Homo sapiens: one gene and its partners. The protein of the gene in region 4 purifies or fractionates together with the protein of the main gene of each other region. This does not show direct contact. Each region holds a gene or a part of one and is shown on either strand. Other genes may lie near its edges.

Region 1 (3,500 bases), on a different chromosome or scaffold from region 4:
CTGAAGTGCCCCCTGGAGGCTGAGCTGGGTGCTGTGGGGTAAACTGTGTGGCAGGGCTGTCTCGCTCACCTTAGGCAGAGAGGAATGAGGGCTCCGGACTCCTGGTTGAATTTCAGATGTACGCTCTCAAGCTGCCGCGTGCGAATCAGCTCATGGGGAATGATGGCCGTGGAGCTGTCACTTTCCAGGCTGTCTTTGCGGCTCCTGTGAAGCAAGCACAGGAAAAGGTTCGGCACAAGGTGAAAAGCTCAGGGAGGAGCAAGATGGGAGTCTCCAGCTGGGCTCCTGAGTAATAAAGACAATAATGGTGACTGATGATAATGATGGTGACAGCCATCATTCTGTATATGCCTGGCGAGCGCCAGCCACTGCACCAAGCACTTCTCACTGACTGGCTACTCCTCACAATGCCCCCAAGAGGTGGCTGCCACCATTGTCTCTTTTTACAGAGGAGGAACTGGGGACAGGGAGGCTAAGTAATTTGCACAGGTTGCACAGCCAGGGAGTGGGCAGAGTTGAGATCCAGTCTCGGGCAGGTCTGATTCTATAAAGCCTGCATCTTTGGCCAACATTCTATTTTTTTTTTTTTTTTAATTGAGATGGTGTCTCGTTCTATTACCCAGGCTGGAGCACAGTGGTGCGATTTCAGCTCACTGCAACCTCCGCCTCCTGGGTTCAAGCAATTCTCCCGCCTTAGCCTCCCGAGTAGCTGGGATCACAGGCATCCACCACTACACCCAGCTAATTTTTGTCTTTTTAGTAGAGACGGGGTTTCACCATGTTGGCCAGGCTGGTCTCGAACTCCTGACCTCAGGTGATCTGCCCGTCCTGGCCTCCCAAAGTGCTGGGATTATAGGCGTGAGCCACTGCACCCAGCCTTTGGTTTTTGTTTTTTTGTTTCGTTTTTTTTTTTTGAGATAGCATCTCGCCGTGTCACCCAGGCTGGAGTGCAGTGGCACGATCTTGGCTCACTGCAACCTCCGCCTCCCAGGTTCAAGCAATTCTCCTGCCTCAGCCTCCCAAGTAGCTGGGATTACAGGGACCTGCCATCATGTCCAGCTAATTTTTTTGTATTTTTAGTAGAGACAGGGTTTCACCATGTTGGCAAGGCTGGTTTCAAACTCCTGACCTCAGGTGATCTGCCTACCTCGGCCTCCCAAAGTGCTGGGATTATAGGCATGAGCCACCGTGCCTGGCCCCAACATTCTATATTAAAGTTTATGGCACAGTGGCTTGTCTTTCCCTGTGATCAGCAGGAGCTTCTGGGAGCCCTTCCTCTCCTGCCCTGGAGCCTCTGAGCCCTAGCTCTGAGCACCATGAGATGCGGCTCCAAGAGTTTCTGTCCAGCTGACCCTGAAGGCTCTGAGGATGCACATTCCGCCAACAGCCAGGAGCTGCAGGGACATTCACACCCTTCATCTAACCAGATGATGATACAATCTGTACTGCTGAGTACAAGCTGGGCTCTTACGAGTCAGACCAGTGGGCTTGGCTGGAAAGCAGAACCGGGCCCCCGCCCTGCTGGGCTTTAAGGCCCCAGGAGCCTGTACCAGATTCCTCCTGACTGTGGCCTTGGCACGGTGAGCTGTCACTGCTGCCCCACACTCCCTCCTGCCTGCTCCCCACCAAAAGTGCGGCCCACGGCTGGGACACAGGGTCCCTTTGCATTCTAAGATTTGCTCTTTCAAATTCAGCTGCCCCCACTGACAACCTCTCAAATCTGCCTCAGCCAGAAATAAGAGTTACCCACTGATCCCATTCAAAAGGCCGGATCCTGGTTTGGGCTGTGAATCTCAGAACAATTCCCCAAGTGTCCATCAAAAACTGGGTGAGAAGCTCTAGTTATTTATCATTCAAGTGGCAGGCAGGAGCCACCCAGGATGACAGCCAGACAGCCACTGAGGGGCAGGCCCAACCTCCTCACACGTTGCGGGGCTAGGTGCTGGGGCCTGCAGCCAGGGTGGCACCCCAACAGGCAGGGCACCTCCCCAGGGGAAGGTGTAGGGTCCGCAGGCCAAAGACAGAGGATGGCCCTGTGGCGGCAGTGGGTTAGACGTGCCCCTGAGGTCATGGGCCGTGCCTGCCTGCTGGCCTTCTCCTTGTGAGGACTCACTCCTGGATCTGACTGTTCCTTCACAAAGCGGTCCCTTCCTCTGCTTTCCTAAAGCCAGCTCTAAAACTGCCTTTTCCCCTGGCTTCGCCTTTGCGCAAGACCTGTGAAGGAGACAAATGCTATGGCCAAGAGGGTCACAGTATTCAGGACTGGAAGGAAACTCTGAGGTTGTTTAATCTCCCTCTTTCCTTTACAAAAGAGAGTGGGTGACGCGTCCCCCCTCACCGTGCGTCAGACTTCTGATCGAAGCCTCAGACTTCCGACCAACTCTCTTTCCCTTCCACCAGGGCCACTGCACCTCCCTTCCTTCTGAGGGAGGCAGCAGTCACAGGTGAGGGCTCAGTGGAGACATAGGGTGCCCTCAGGGCCCAAACAAGAGCAGAACTCAGGAAGCAGTGTTTCCTGAGCCATGTTTCCTGAGCCCTTACTCTGCGCCAACCCTCTGCTAAGGCCATAGGTTCACTCGCTGATTCCTCCCAGCAAGCACGAGGTAGGCTCTGTTGTCAAGCCTTCTTTCACAGAGGAGGTAACTGAGGCTTAGGGAGGTGAGGTGACGAGCCGAAGGGCTCAGAGTGAGTTTAAGCGAAAGGACCAGGGGGTGACTCTCACAATCACTCCCCTGTGCCATCTTTGACCACCGGTTCCTGCCTCCAGACACACTACTGTCCTCCTGAGAGGGGCTGAGGCCTAGCTTGTCCAGGCAGGGCGTGCTAGAGAATCCCAGCCTCTATGGTGCAGGCAAAAATGCTCATGAATAGCAATGGGAGGTGGGGTGGGGGCTTGCAGAAAAGAATCAACAGCACACAGGGCTAGAGACGTCTCAAGCTGGAGGGAAAAATAAATTGTTGAAAGTCAGCTAAAGTCACCTTGGTAACTGCCACAACACACTCACCCAGAACCAGGACATCAAACCCAACTGCAAACAGCCTTAAAGAAATGGAAAAGAACTTAATCATCTGAAGAATTAATGTGACAAGTGCCCACATTTACACCTCCCACCAACCTTCAATCATTTGAAACTGTACTTTAATCTTTTAAGAGAAAAAAAAATTGCAAAATGCAAGATTTGCAGTCCTGGAGCTTGGGTATTTCCGGCATGCTGCTTCGATGGAAACGCGGCTGCTATACACACACACACACATGCGCGTGCACACACACACACACACACACACACACACACACACACACAAGAACCCAGTTTTCTGCTGATTTGTTTCTTCTGGACATCGATGCAGAAGCATGAATTATTTGTGTGGGCTAGGTGAGGTATTAAATCTGCAGCCGACACAGGTTTGCAATGTTTTGCATGGTTGTCAGCTTAATCTTAGTCATAAAAAATAAGTAGTGTGCTCGGCAGCATGGCCTAATTTTTCAGCTGGGCTGTTTT
Region 2 (3,005 bases), on a different chromosome or scaffold from region 4:
CAGCGTGTGTCGCCCAGTGTCAGTGCCTTTGGGGCGGGGGACAGCGTCCCCACTTTCCTTCTACTGAATCCTCGGGCCCGTGGGCAGAACCCATTGCTTTTGTTTGTGGGCCTGGGTACCTTGCAGGGCCTTTCTCTATTCCCCACCGGCTCAGGACCCATCCAGCTTGTACTTGCTGACTCGGGAGGGAACTCGGGTCGTAGGGCCATGCGGGGAGAGGACCTGGCCTGATCTGGGAGGCAAGGGGCGGGGAGGTGTTAGAGAGTTCATCCTTCCCCACTCTCTCCGGGCTCGCGCTGCCTCGGGGATTCCCGTGGCGTCCTGGGAGTTCCCGTGCCACCTTCCTTCCAGCTGGCAGCTCTGCAGACACCTCCACCCGTGAACATCACGCTCAAGTTCTGGAGACAGGGAGGAGGGCTGGGGGATCCAGAGATCCAGCCTGAATAGACTTCTGCTCTCTGCTCAGCTAAGCACCCAACACTGAGAAATGAACAGGTCAATTGGATTCAAAGCCGCGCAATCATCTGCATTTTATTTGCACCTCATTTGCAAGTTGTTAATTTGCAACTCTGCTCCTTCCACTCCAGGTTCCTTCTCTCCCATCACCCCTCAGATTCCCCAGTGGCCCGGGAAAAAATATCTTGGTCTTTGCCAAGGTAGACTCAGCCTTGTCAGCAGGCCTGTCCTGTGTTCTCAGGGGAGGCCTTTACCCAAGGCCACAACAACAGCAGAAATCCCGAGTAAGACGCCACCTTGACGGCAGGGAAGGCTGGATCTTTTCACAGGGCAGAACTGATTTGATGAGGTGAACAGTAAGGTGAGCAGAGGTGGGAAAGGCCAGTGGGTGAATGCGGGAACAGCACCAGGAGCTAGAGCCCAACTCTGGCCTGTGGGCTGTCTCCCGGTCCTCAGAGGCGGGACGGGGTTCCTCCACCCACCACCACTGTTTCCCCAGTGATGTAGCTGGCATCTTCAGAGCACAGGAAAGACACGATGCCAGCACAATCCTCTGGCTCGCCTAACCTGGGGAATAAGGGAAGCAAGGAAGGAGGTAAAAATCAAACAGTTCTGCCTCCCTCACCTGGGACACAGGGAGTTAAATTTGCTTAATCAAGAATTATCAGATGGCTTTTTCAGGGTCAGTGTACAAGCTTTCTGCCTATCAAATAGGGTTACCACGAGGATATGCTGTTATAATTTAGTATAAGCATACTGTACTCTGCAAAACTATTACCCATAATATTCAAATACTATAGAAACACACCGGTTTTTAGAGAGCTCAGGACACCAAAATCCAAAGTTATATAGATAAAATGGTGAGCAATTATTTCATACTTCAAAAAAATGGTTTCACATGTGCACACACTAAAGTATCAGGGAGTCTGTGTGACAGTAAATGGTGTGTTTAAAATGATTCCATTTGTACAGGTTCAGCTTAGAACTTTTTCAGGAATCTATACTTGTGCCTTAAAGTCAGGTTCATTTAGTGAGAATGTGCTAATTCTTATTTTATCAGTGACTGCATAGTTAGGAGACACTTTAATCTCCCTGCCATAGAATGCTCTAGAGGTGGGCAGAGTGAGTAACTCAAACCTAGAAGGGCTGAATTAATGCTTCTCCATTCTACTTGTATCTTGCAATCATTTGAGAGGCTTAAACCAAAAAAGAAAAGAAAAGAAAAGACAAAGAAAAACAAAAGCCCAGATGGTCAAGTCCTACCTTGGACCAATTAAAAAGAATCTCTGGGAGTGGGTGGGGCCTGAGCACCTGCAGTTTAAAAAGCTCCCCAGGTGATTCTAATGTGAATCCAGTATTGAGCTACATGGGCTAGATCATTCATTGGTGCTCTAGGTTGACAATCCCCTCACTTATTAATGAGTTATGAACCAGGCCTGCAGCTCATGTCTCACATCAGAATGGCTTTGGGAAGATTTGGGATGTCTGGACGAGTACAGAGTTAGGCATTACTGGCATTTGTCCTTGAAGCCAGAAGGTAGAGAGAGGCAGGGAACTTAGAGGAAAGGGAGCCCGACAAAGGTGCTTGAACAGTTCACCCAGCTCACTGGGGAAGAAAGTAACTCCTTAGGCAAGGGGAGTTTGGGGCTTAGTAAAACTCTTCATTCTTTTCATTTGGATTGTAGATCATCAACCTGAGTTTTGTAAACATGTGTCATTATTCAAGGGGACTAACAAAGCATGGTTTTGGTTATGGTCCCTGGTCTCCATGGATGCTCAGAGGTGGAGGCAATCCCCCAGGTGGAGAGAGGACTCAGGGCTTCTCCCAGAGCTCTGCACTGCTGAAACCCCGATGTCTCTGTGTTTACCTTTTGAAAGGGAAGCTGACTTCTTGCTCAGGTCACTGTAGTGATAGTGTTTATGAATTCGTGGTCTGTGAGGCAGAAGAGAGCCTGCCTGTGTTATCTGTGGGACTGAGACAGCGGGCTGTGGGCTGCTAGGGACCAGACCTTCCCATCTTCATGTCTCTTAGTGCCCTTGCCCTCATGACAGTTTACCTTCTTATCCGCAGGGTTTCTTTCATGCTTTCCTCTTTTTCCTTGTCCATCCAGAGCTGCAGGAAGAAGGGAAATCTCTTTATGTTTTTTTTTTCTTTTTCTTTTTCTTTTTAGAGACGGAGTCTTGCTCTTTTGCCCAGGCCGGACTGTAGTGGCGCTATCTTGGCTCACTGCAAACTCCGCCTCCCGGGTTATGCCATTCTCCTGCCTCAGCCTCCCGAGTAGCTGGGATTACAGGCGCTCGCCACTGCGCCCGGCTAATTTTTTGTATTTTTAGTAGAGACGGGGTTTCACCGTGTTAGCCAAGATGGTCTCGACCTCCTGACCTCGTGATCTGCCCGCCTCGGCCTCCCAATGTGCTGGGATTACAGGCATGAGCCACCCCACCCAGAAATCTCTTTATGTTTAAGAAGAGGAAAGTGAAGAACGGAAAGGGAAGAAACTGCCCATCCTCATGGTAACTGAGAGGAGGGATGGGGAGAGAGACTTCCC
Region 3 (3,500 bases), on a different chromosome or scaffold from region 4:
TATATACCCAAAGGACTATAAATCATGCTGCTATAAAGACACATGCACATGTATGTTTATTGCGGCACTATTCACAATAGCAAAGACTTGGAACCAACCCAAATGTCCAACAATGATAGACTGGATTAAGAAAATGTGGCACATATACACCACGGAATACTATGCAGCCATAAAAAATGATGAGTTCATGTCCTTTGTAGGGACATGGATGAAATTGGAAATCATCATTCTCAGTAAACTATCACAAGGACAAAAAACCAAACACCGCATGTTCTCACTCATAGGTGGGAATTGAGCAATGAGAACACATGGACACAGGAAGGGGAACATCACACTCTGGGGACTGTTGTGGGGTGGGGGGAGGGGGGAGGGATAGCATTAGGAGATATACCTAATGCTAAATGACGAGTTAGTGGGTGCAGCACACCAGCATGGCACATGCATACATATGTAACTAACCTGCACATTGTGCACATGTACCCTAAAACTTGAAGTATAATAATAATAATAAAAAGAAAAAAAACAAAAAAAACAAATGAATGACTGAAAAATACACACTCTGCTATAATCACTAGAAAGAATTTTTTTTTTAATTTTTCTGAGACAGGGTCTTGCCATGATGATGCCCAGGATGGAGTGCAGTGGTGTGATCTTGGCTCACTGCAGCCTTGATCTCCTAGGCTCAGGCAGTCCTCCTGCCTCAGCCTCGCAAGCAGCTGGAAATACAGGCATGCACCACCATTTCCAGCTAATTTTAAAAAATTGTTGCCAGGCTCAGTGGCTAACACCTGTAATCCCAACACTTTGGGAGGCTGAGATGGGTGGATCACCTGAGGTCAGGAGTTCAAGACCAGACTGGCCAACATGGTGAAACCCTGTCTCTACTAAAAATACAAAAATTAGCTGGATGAGGTGGTGGGTGCTTATAAACCCAGCTACTCAGGAGGCTGAGGCAGGAGAAACGCTTGAACCTGGGAGGTAGAGGTTGCTGAGATCACACCACTCACTGCACTCCAGCCTGGGCGACTGTGCTCTCTGTGCTCTCTGAAACATGTGCTGTGTCCACTCAGGGTTAAATGGATTAAGGGCGGTGCAAGATGTGCTTTGTTAAACAGATGCTTGAAGGCAGCATGCTCGTTAAGAGTCATCACCACTCCCTAATCTCAAGTATCCAGGGACACAAACACTGCGGAAGGCCGCAGGGTCCTCTGCCTAGGAAAACCAGAGACCTTTGTTCACTTGTTTATCTGCTGAGCTTCCCTCCACTATTGCCCTATGACCCTGCCAAATCCCCCTCTGCGAGAAACACCCAAGAATGATCAATAAAAATAAATAAATAAATAAATAATTCCAAAAAAAAAACGCTGGGCATGGTGCCTCACACTTGTAATCCCAGCACTTTGGGAGGCCGAGGCAGGTGGACCACGAGGTCAGGAGATCGAGACCATCCTGGCTAACATGGTGAAAGCCCGACTCTACTAAAAATACAAAAATTAGCCAGGCGTGATGGCACACGCCTGTAGTCCCAGCTACTCAGGAGGCTGAGGCAGGAGAATCGCTTGAACCAAGGAGGCGGAGGTTGCAGTGAGCTGAGATCACGCCACTGCACTCCAGCCTGGGTGACAGAGCAAGACTCCATCTCAAAAAAAAAAAAAAAAAAAAAAAAAAAAAAATATATATATATATATATATATATATATTCCTAGCTTCCCAAATTGCTGGGTTTAAAGGTGTGGGCCACCACACCAGGCATAAAGACTTTTATAATTGGAAAATAACAATAATTTTTTTTTTCTTTTGAGACGGAGTTTCGCTCTTGTTGCCCAGGCTGGAGTGTGATGGCATGATCTCAGCTCACCACAACCTCCGCCTCCGGGGTTCAAGCTATTCTCCTGCCTCAGCCTCCCGAGTAGCTGAGATTACAGGCATGCACCACCACACCCAGCTAATTTGTATTTTTAGCAGAGACAGGGTTTCTCCACGTTGGTCAGGCTGGTCATGAACTCCCAACCTCAGGTGATCCACCCGCCTCAGCCTCCCAAAGTGCTGGGATTACAGGCATTAGCCACTGCACCCAGCCGAAAATAATAATGATTTTTAAAACTGGACGCACTGGCTCACACCTGTAATTCCAGCACTTAGGGAGATCGAGGTGGGCAGATCACTTGAAGCCAGAGTTCAACACAAGCCTGGCCAACATGGCAAAACTCTGACTCTACTAAAAGAAATACAAAAATTAGCCAGGTGTGGTGGCACACACCTGTAATCCCAGCTACTCGGGAGGCTGAGGCACAAGAATCGCTTGAACCCAGGAGGCAGAGGCTGCAATGAGCCAAGATTGTGCCACCGCACCAGAGCAAGACTGTCTCCAAAAAATAATAAAAAAATAATTTTTTAATTAAAAATAAAGATCCATCTTTTTACTTTTTTTTTCCTAGCTAGGATTTGAACCTATATCCTTTTACTTTATTTTGAAGGGTACTGTGGGGAAAGAGGGACAAATATGCTGTTTTAACTTCCTATTCCCTATTAAAGTTTTCCCAAAGCATCTAAACTTCAATCTAAGAATCATTATCATGTGTTCTTTTGGAAAACTTTATTTTGTTATAATAACATTGTTACTAACAACTGGCATATACAGCACCTAGTGCTGTTCTAAATGCTTTATACATATTAACTAATTTAGTTCTTACAACAACTGTATGGTATTTTACAGATGAGGAGAGGCACAGAGAGACTAAGTAACTTGCCCAAGTTGTATAGCTAGTAAGCAGGGGTGCTGGAATTTGAACCAGGCTGCTTGGCTCCAGGACTCAGTGCCACTATGCTGCTATTCAAAAGTCTGGGGAGAGATATTTTTCTGTCCTGTTTTCAGTGGTCGCCTAGAATAAAATACTCCAATTTTCTCTGCAAATCAAATGTGCTTATTAATCCTCTCCAACTCAGCAAAATTTCAGATGCTTCATTATACTATAGGTATATATACCTGTGATCTATTCTAGAGAGTAGAAATAAGTGATGAAATCATGAAATATAAAATTTGCTTCAGCTCATTTTAAAGAAACACAACTTCAGGTCAGGCACAGTGGCTCCCGCCTATAATCCCAACATGTTGGGAGGCCAAGGTGGGCAGATCACCTAAAGTCAGGAGTTCGAGATCTGCCTGGCCAACATGGTGAAACCCCATCTCTACTCAAAATACAAAAATTAGCCGGACGTGGTGGCACACACCTGTAGTCCCAGCTACTCGGGAGGCTGAGGCACGAGAATCGCTTGAACCCGGGAGGTGGAGGCTGCAGTGAGCCAAGATTGCACCACTGCACTCCAGCCTGGGCCACAGAGTGAGACCCTGCCACAAAAAAAAAGTAAAAAATTAAACTCATTAGTCAAGCATGCTAGATATTTATAAGTCCTAGTTATCCTTGACTATGTAAAACCCAGTATTATCATACATTAAATATCAGACACATATTACATGTAGCAATCAATCTTAAATGAAG
Region 4 (3,939 bases):
AGGCCTTCCCTGACCACCCTTTAAAAAATTGCAACCCTTCCCACCCCAACACTCTCTATCCCCGCTACCCTGCTTTACTCCTTCTCTATCTCACATCCCAAATACTATCTTTACAGGCTTATATGTTTGTCTGTCTCCCCCCAGTAAAATGCAAGCTCCATGAGCACAGGAACTTATTTTTCTGTTCCATTCACTGCTACGTCCCCGAGCCTAGAGGTATGCCTGCTACAGAGCAGCGGCTCAACACACAGTACTGAATGATACACTGAGAAAACACTGAAATTGCCACAAAGGCTGTCTAAGAATTGACCTAAGACTTGAGTAGAAATCAAAGGGACTTGGAGATGGTTGTTCTCTGAGAGGGACTTGCTTCATTTCACCTCTGTGCCTCAGTTCCCCCATATGTGAAATGCCTCATGGGGTTATGTTGAATGATGTCTTGCATATAAAAACCCTGGCAAGCTCCACTCAGGACATCAGAACTGGCCGTGCCTCAGAAATTGACCTAGCCCAGCATCCCCCAACCACAGGTCTCAGCATCCCTTTTCAGCTTTCCCAGAGGTGCAGCAAGTCAGGAGGCAGCTGAGAAGAAAAGCTACAACTCTGAAGAGTGTAGACTTCGTTAAAACAACTACTGTTATAAAACTTAAACGGCATATAATACATATTAAATGAAAATTAAACAGAGTGTAGTGTTCCCAGATTAGTTGAAGCAGTTATTCTTCAGTCAGAATTTGAATCTCTCTGCCTTTGATGTCTCATGAGTCTTGCTCCGCCCAGCGGTAAAATGGAATTGCACCTGCCTGTCCCTTCACCCCCAGCCTCTCACCCTCCACCCCTGGGCAGGGAGAGGAACAAAAAACTCAATCAGGAAAGCAAGGCTCCATGTAGGTCCCCGGCCCCATAAAAATCAATGTGATGGGCGTGGTGGCTTACGCTGGTAACGCTTTGGTAGGCCGAAGTGGAAGGACTGCTTGAGGCCAGGAGTTTGAGACCAGCCTGAGCACATAGCAAGAACCGTGTCTCTACAAAAAAACAAAAATAAATTTGCCGAGCATAGTGGTGCATGCCTGTAGTTCTAGCTGCTTGGGAGGCTGAGGTGGGGGCAATCACCTGAGCCCAGGAGGTTGAGGCTGCAGTGAGCCATGATTGTGCCACTGCACTCCAGCCTGGGTAACAGAACAAGACTGTATCTAAAAAAAATAATAATAATCAATGCTGACCAAGAAAGTTTCCCTTCCCCTTGCGGGTGTTAGGAATAATGCTCAAAATCCTAAGGAAATTGAACACTCGAACACAGGATTCTTAGCAAAGCAATTTTACTTCTGCGCAGAGGGATGCCTCCTTGGCCAGTTGCCATGAGAGCACACCTGAACAAAGGGGCACGAGAGCCTTTATTCCTGATGCAAGTCCTGCCCCTGTACCCTTTCCCCATTGGCTGGGGTCAGGTCGTACAATCTAAACTAATCCCGGTTGGCTAAACATTTGATTTATTTTAGATAGAGTGGGCACGTAAAAGAAAGTGGAGAGAAAGGGGAAAGGGTGTCTGTAATGAGCTAGAAAGTTAGTCTTCTTTCCAAATAAGCAAAGGAATGTGAGCTGGTACTGATAACGCTTGGTACTGTGGCATGCCTGGGCATCTAACAAAGGCAAAAAGGAGAAAAATGAAAAAAAAAAAGGGGGGGATACTAAGAATTAAAGAATAAAAGATTGATCAGATTATTTGAAGAGAAACCTCATCATATCCCACAGGGGGAAGCTGAGTCAGCAGATCTGCCAGGGGTGCCCAGGGTTCCATTTAGCTCAGGACTTTGCCATATGCTGGGACACAGCCCCCTTGCCACCAACAGGCCTGGCTCTGAGGGTGAGGAGACCAAAAGGAGGTAGGGGAAAGGGGAGTCACCAACCCATGGGGTAAGGATTGGAGGGGTGAAGCAGTCAGGAGAGGTGGTCATAGGCCAAGGCTGGCAAACCTTTGCAGCCACACCAAGGCCGTTCCTACTCTTGGGGCCTATATGGGGTTCTTGCTGGGGCCTCCACTTGCTGATAGGAAGATCACAGCTCACAGAGCATCATGCTTTACAGTTTGCAGGCTGTCTTCTCACGGGAAATTTGCCAAGCCTCTCTGCAGTCCCTGGGTGGTCAGGGTTGATGATGACCCCCATTCTGGAAGAAGGCTGGGCATCAGAGAGGTTCAGGGACTCACCGAGGACACACAGCAAGAAAGTATAGGAGCCTCACCCCAGACTTCCACAAACCTAGCTTTGCATATCCTCCTGAATACAGGCAATTTTTTACAGTTCACCCACAGCGGGAAGGACCGGACCTTCTCTATCCGCGGGAACTGCAGCGGCGCCCACCTCACCCCTTCTGCGGGGGAAAGGGCGCAACCTTTGGGCTTGTCCAAGCCTCTGGGCTATGGTCAGGGGCCCTCTGTTGAAGTGGGCCGAGTGGGCAGGAGTGTTGAGGTCGAGCTAACGTGGTAAGGTCTGGGGGCGTCTGTGTCCTCGGGGCTCCTGTAGCGTCACCCAGAGGCGGGGGATGGGATTAGGGGACGTGGAGAGAGTCCTACAGTGCAACGGCGGAAAGGCCAGCCCCCAGATGCGGACGCCGCGGCCCAGAGAGGAAAGCCCCCACGCGGAGCCAGGAGCTGCGGCTTCCCGAGGGAGCCGAGGGGAGACCAGCGTTAGTTACCTGCAGCAGGCTCGGGCTCCGGTTCAGGATCACGCTTGGGTTCTGGTTCCGGCCCTCCCAGCTCTGTCCACATGGCCGCCCAGGGCTGGCCGCAGGTCCCGCCTCCGCGCAGCCCGGGGCTCAGCGGCCAATGAGGCTCCGCCTGCGCCTGGGGCGCTGCCTACGTCCTGTCGCCGGCCAAGGCCGCTCCTCCCTCGCCCCGCCCGGTCTTTCCCGGTCCCCGCCCCTCTACCCCCGGCAGCCCGCACCGCTTCAGCGCTCCCTCCCTCGGGTCTCCGCAAGCCCAGTGTCCACGTTGCTCAGATCTAGGCTCCTAAGGCACTGGTTTGGGAGCGGAAACAGAGATACCCAGAGAGGGGCAGGGGCTTCCCCAGGTCACACAGCAAAGTTTTCGGAGACCGAACCCCAACTACACTTTGCATTTCTCCCCGCTGCAAGACGCTGCTTAATCGACTGCCATCCTTGAGACTCCCCTTAACCCCTTCTCTGCCTCGCCTCTCCCTCACTTTTTTTGTCCAGGATTCACTAATTTCTGTCCTCCACTTTCACTGCTCCTTTCTTCAGTTCCTTCAAGAAGATTTTATATTTGGGCATTTTTCAAAGTACATTTTTGTCCTAAGGACAAAAAGAATGTATGCACAGTGTAGAAAGCTTGGAAAACACAGGAAAGGATGAAAAAAGAAGAAAAATATCACCTGTAATCTCTTCACCTACGGTAGCCATTATTACGGTGTTCGTCCTGCTAGTATTGTTTCCTCTGCATCTTTCAAAATTATTTTAATAAAAATAAAATCATATAGTAACCTCTGTTGTGCTGCTTTAAAAAAAATTTAAAAACTTAGCGCTGTATTTTGAAGTTTTCTCCTATCACTAATTACAGATGACATCATCCTCTCCAAGGTGGCATAGAATTCTGTTGTAGGGGTAAACTGTTGGACATTTAATTGTCTCCATTTTGTTGCTATAAAGGTTGCCAAGATGGACCACTGAACATGCATCTCACTCGCTCCACCCTCGCTGCACCTTCCTTCTGGCTAGGGAGGTCCCAAAGCTAACCGCCATGTTTCCCAGCCTCATTTGCAGTTAGAGTTCTGGATGTGGACTAGGTGCTGCCAATTAGTAGTACTCTGCCGGATGTGGAAGGCGGGCACGCATTGGAGGGTATTGTCCTGCCCCTGTAGGGTGGCACTAGCAGGATAGCAGAAATGGGAGATGTTCTGCGGCAGCATTCCTTGTCCCTTCTCC

What was found. Proteins that work in one complex are often made in the same cells at the same time.
Region 1: the proteins of ALDH1B1 (region 4) and SUFU purify together in Homo sapiens (affinity purification with mass spectrometry; 3 studies listed by BioGRID and IntAct, with this or other methods). This does not show direct contact.
Region 2: the proteins of ALDH1B1 (region 4) and DHRS4 purify together in Homo sapiens (affinity purification with mass spectrometry; 3 studies listed by BioGRID and IntAct, with this or other methods). This does not show direct contact.
Region 3: the proteins of ALDH1B1 (region 4) and AMBRA1 purify together in Homo sapiens (affinity purification with western blotting; 2 studies listed by BioGRID, with this or other methods). This does not show direct contact.

The regions. Positions count from the first base shown.
Region 1 is NC_000010.11:102,611,972-102,615,471, reverse strand, and holds part of SUFU (suppressor of fused homolog), read right to left. Parts: intron 205-3,500; coding exon 70-204; intron 1-69. UniProt on the Homo sapiens protein: Negative regulator in the hedgehog/smoothened signaling pathway. Down-regulates GLI1-mediated transactivation of target genes. Down-regulates GLI2-mediated transactivation of target genes. Part of a corepressor complex that acts on DNA-bound GLI1.
Region 2 is NC_000014.9:23,966,775-23,969,779, reverse strand, and holds the end of DHRS4 (dehydrogenase/reductase SDR family member 4), read right to left. Parts: intron 2,971-3,005; exon of another isoform or gene 2,709-2,970; intron 2,570-2,708; coding exon 2,514-2,569; coding exon of another isoform or gene 2,510-2,513; exon of another isoform or gene 2,097-2,509; intron 1,024-2,096; coding exon 909-1,023; 3' UTR 501-908; downstream 1-500. UniProt on the Homo sapiens protein: NADPH-dependent oxidoreductase which catalyzes the reduction of a variety of compounds bearing carbonyl groups including ketosteroids, alpha-dicarbonyl compounds, aldehydes, aromatic ketones and quinones.
Region 3 is NC_000011.10:46,584,024-46,587,523, forward strand, and holds part of AMBRA1 (activating molecule in BECN1-regulated autophagy protein 1), read right to left. Parts: intron 3,422-3,500; exon of another isoform or gene 3,232-3,421; intron 1-3,231. UniProt on the Homo sapiens protein: Substrate-recognition component of a DCX (DDB1-CUL4-X-box) E3 ubiquitin-protein ligase complex involved in cell cycle control and autophagy.
Region 4 is NC_000009.12:38,391,563-38,395,501, reverse strand, and holds the start of ALDH1B1 (aldehyde dehydrogenase X, mitochondrial precursor), read right to left. Parts: upstream 2,801-3,939; 5' UTR 2,695-2,800; exon of another isoform or gene 1,069-2,694; coding exon of another isoform or gene 937-1,068; intron 1-936. UniProt on the Homo sapiens protein: ALDHs play a major role in the detoxification of alcohol-derived acetaldehyde. They are involved in the metabolism of corticosteroids, biogenic amines, neurotransmitters, and lipid peroxidation.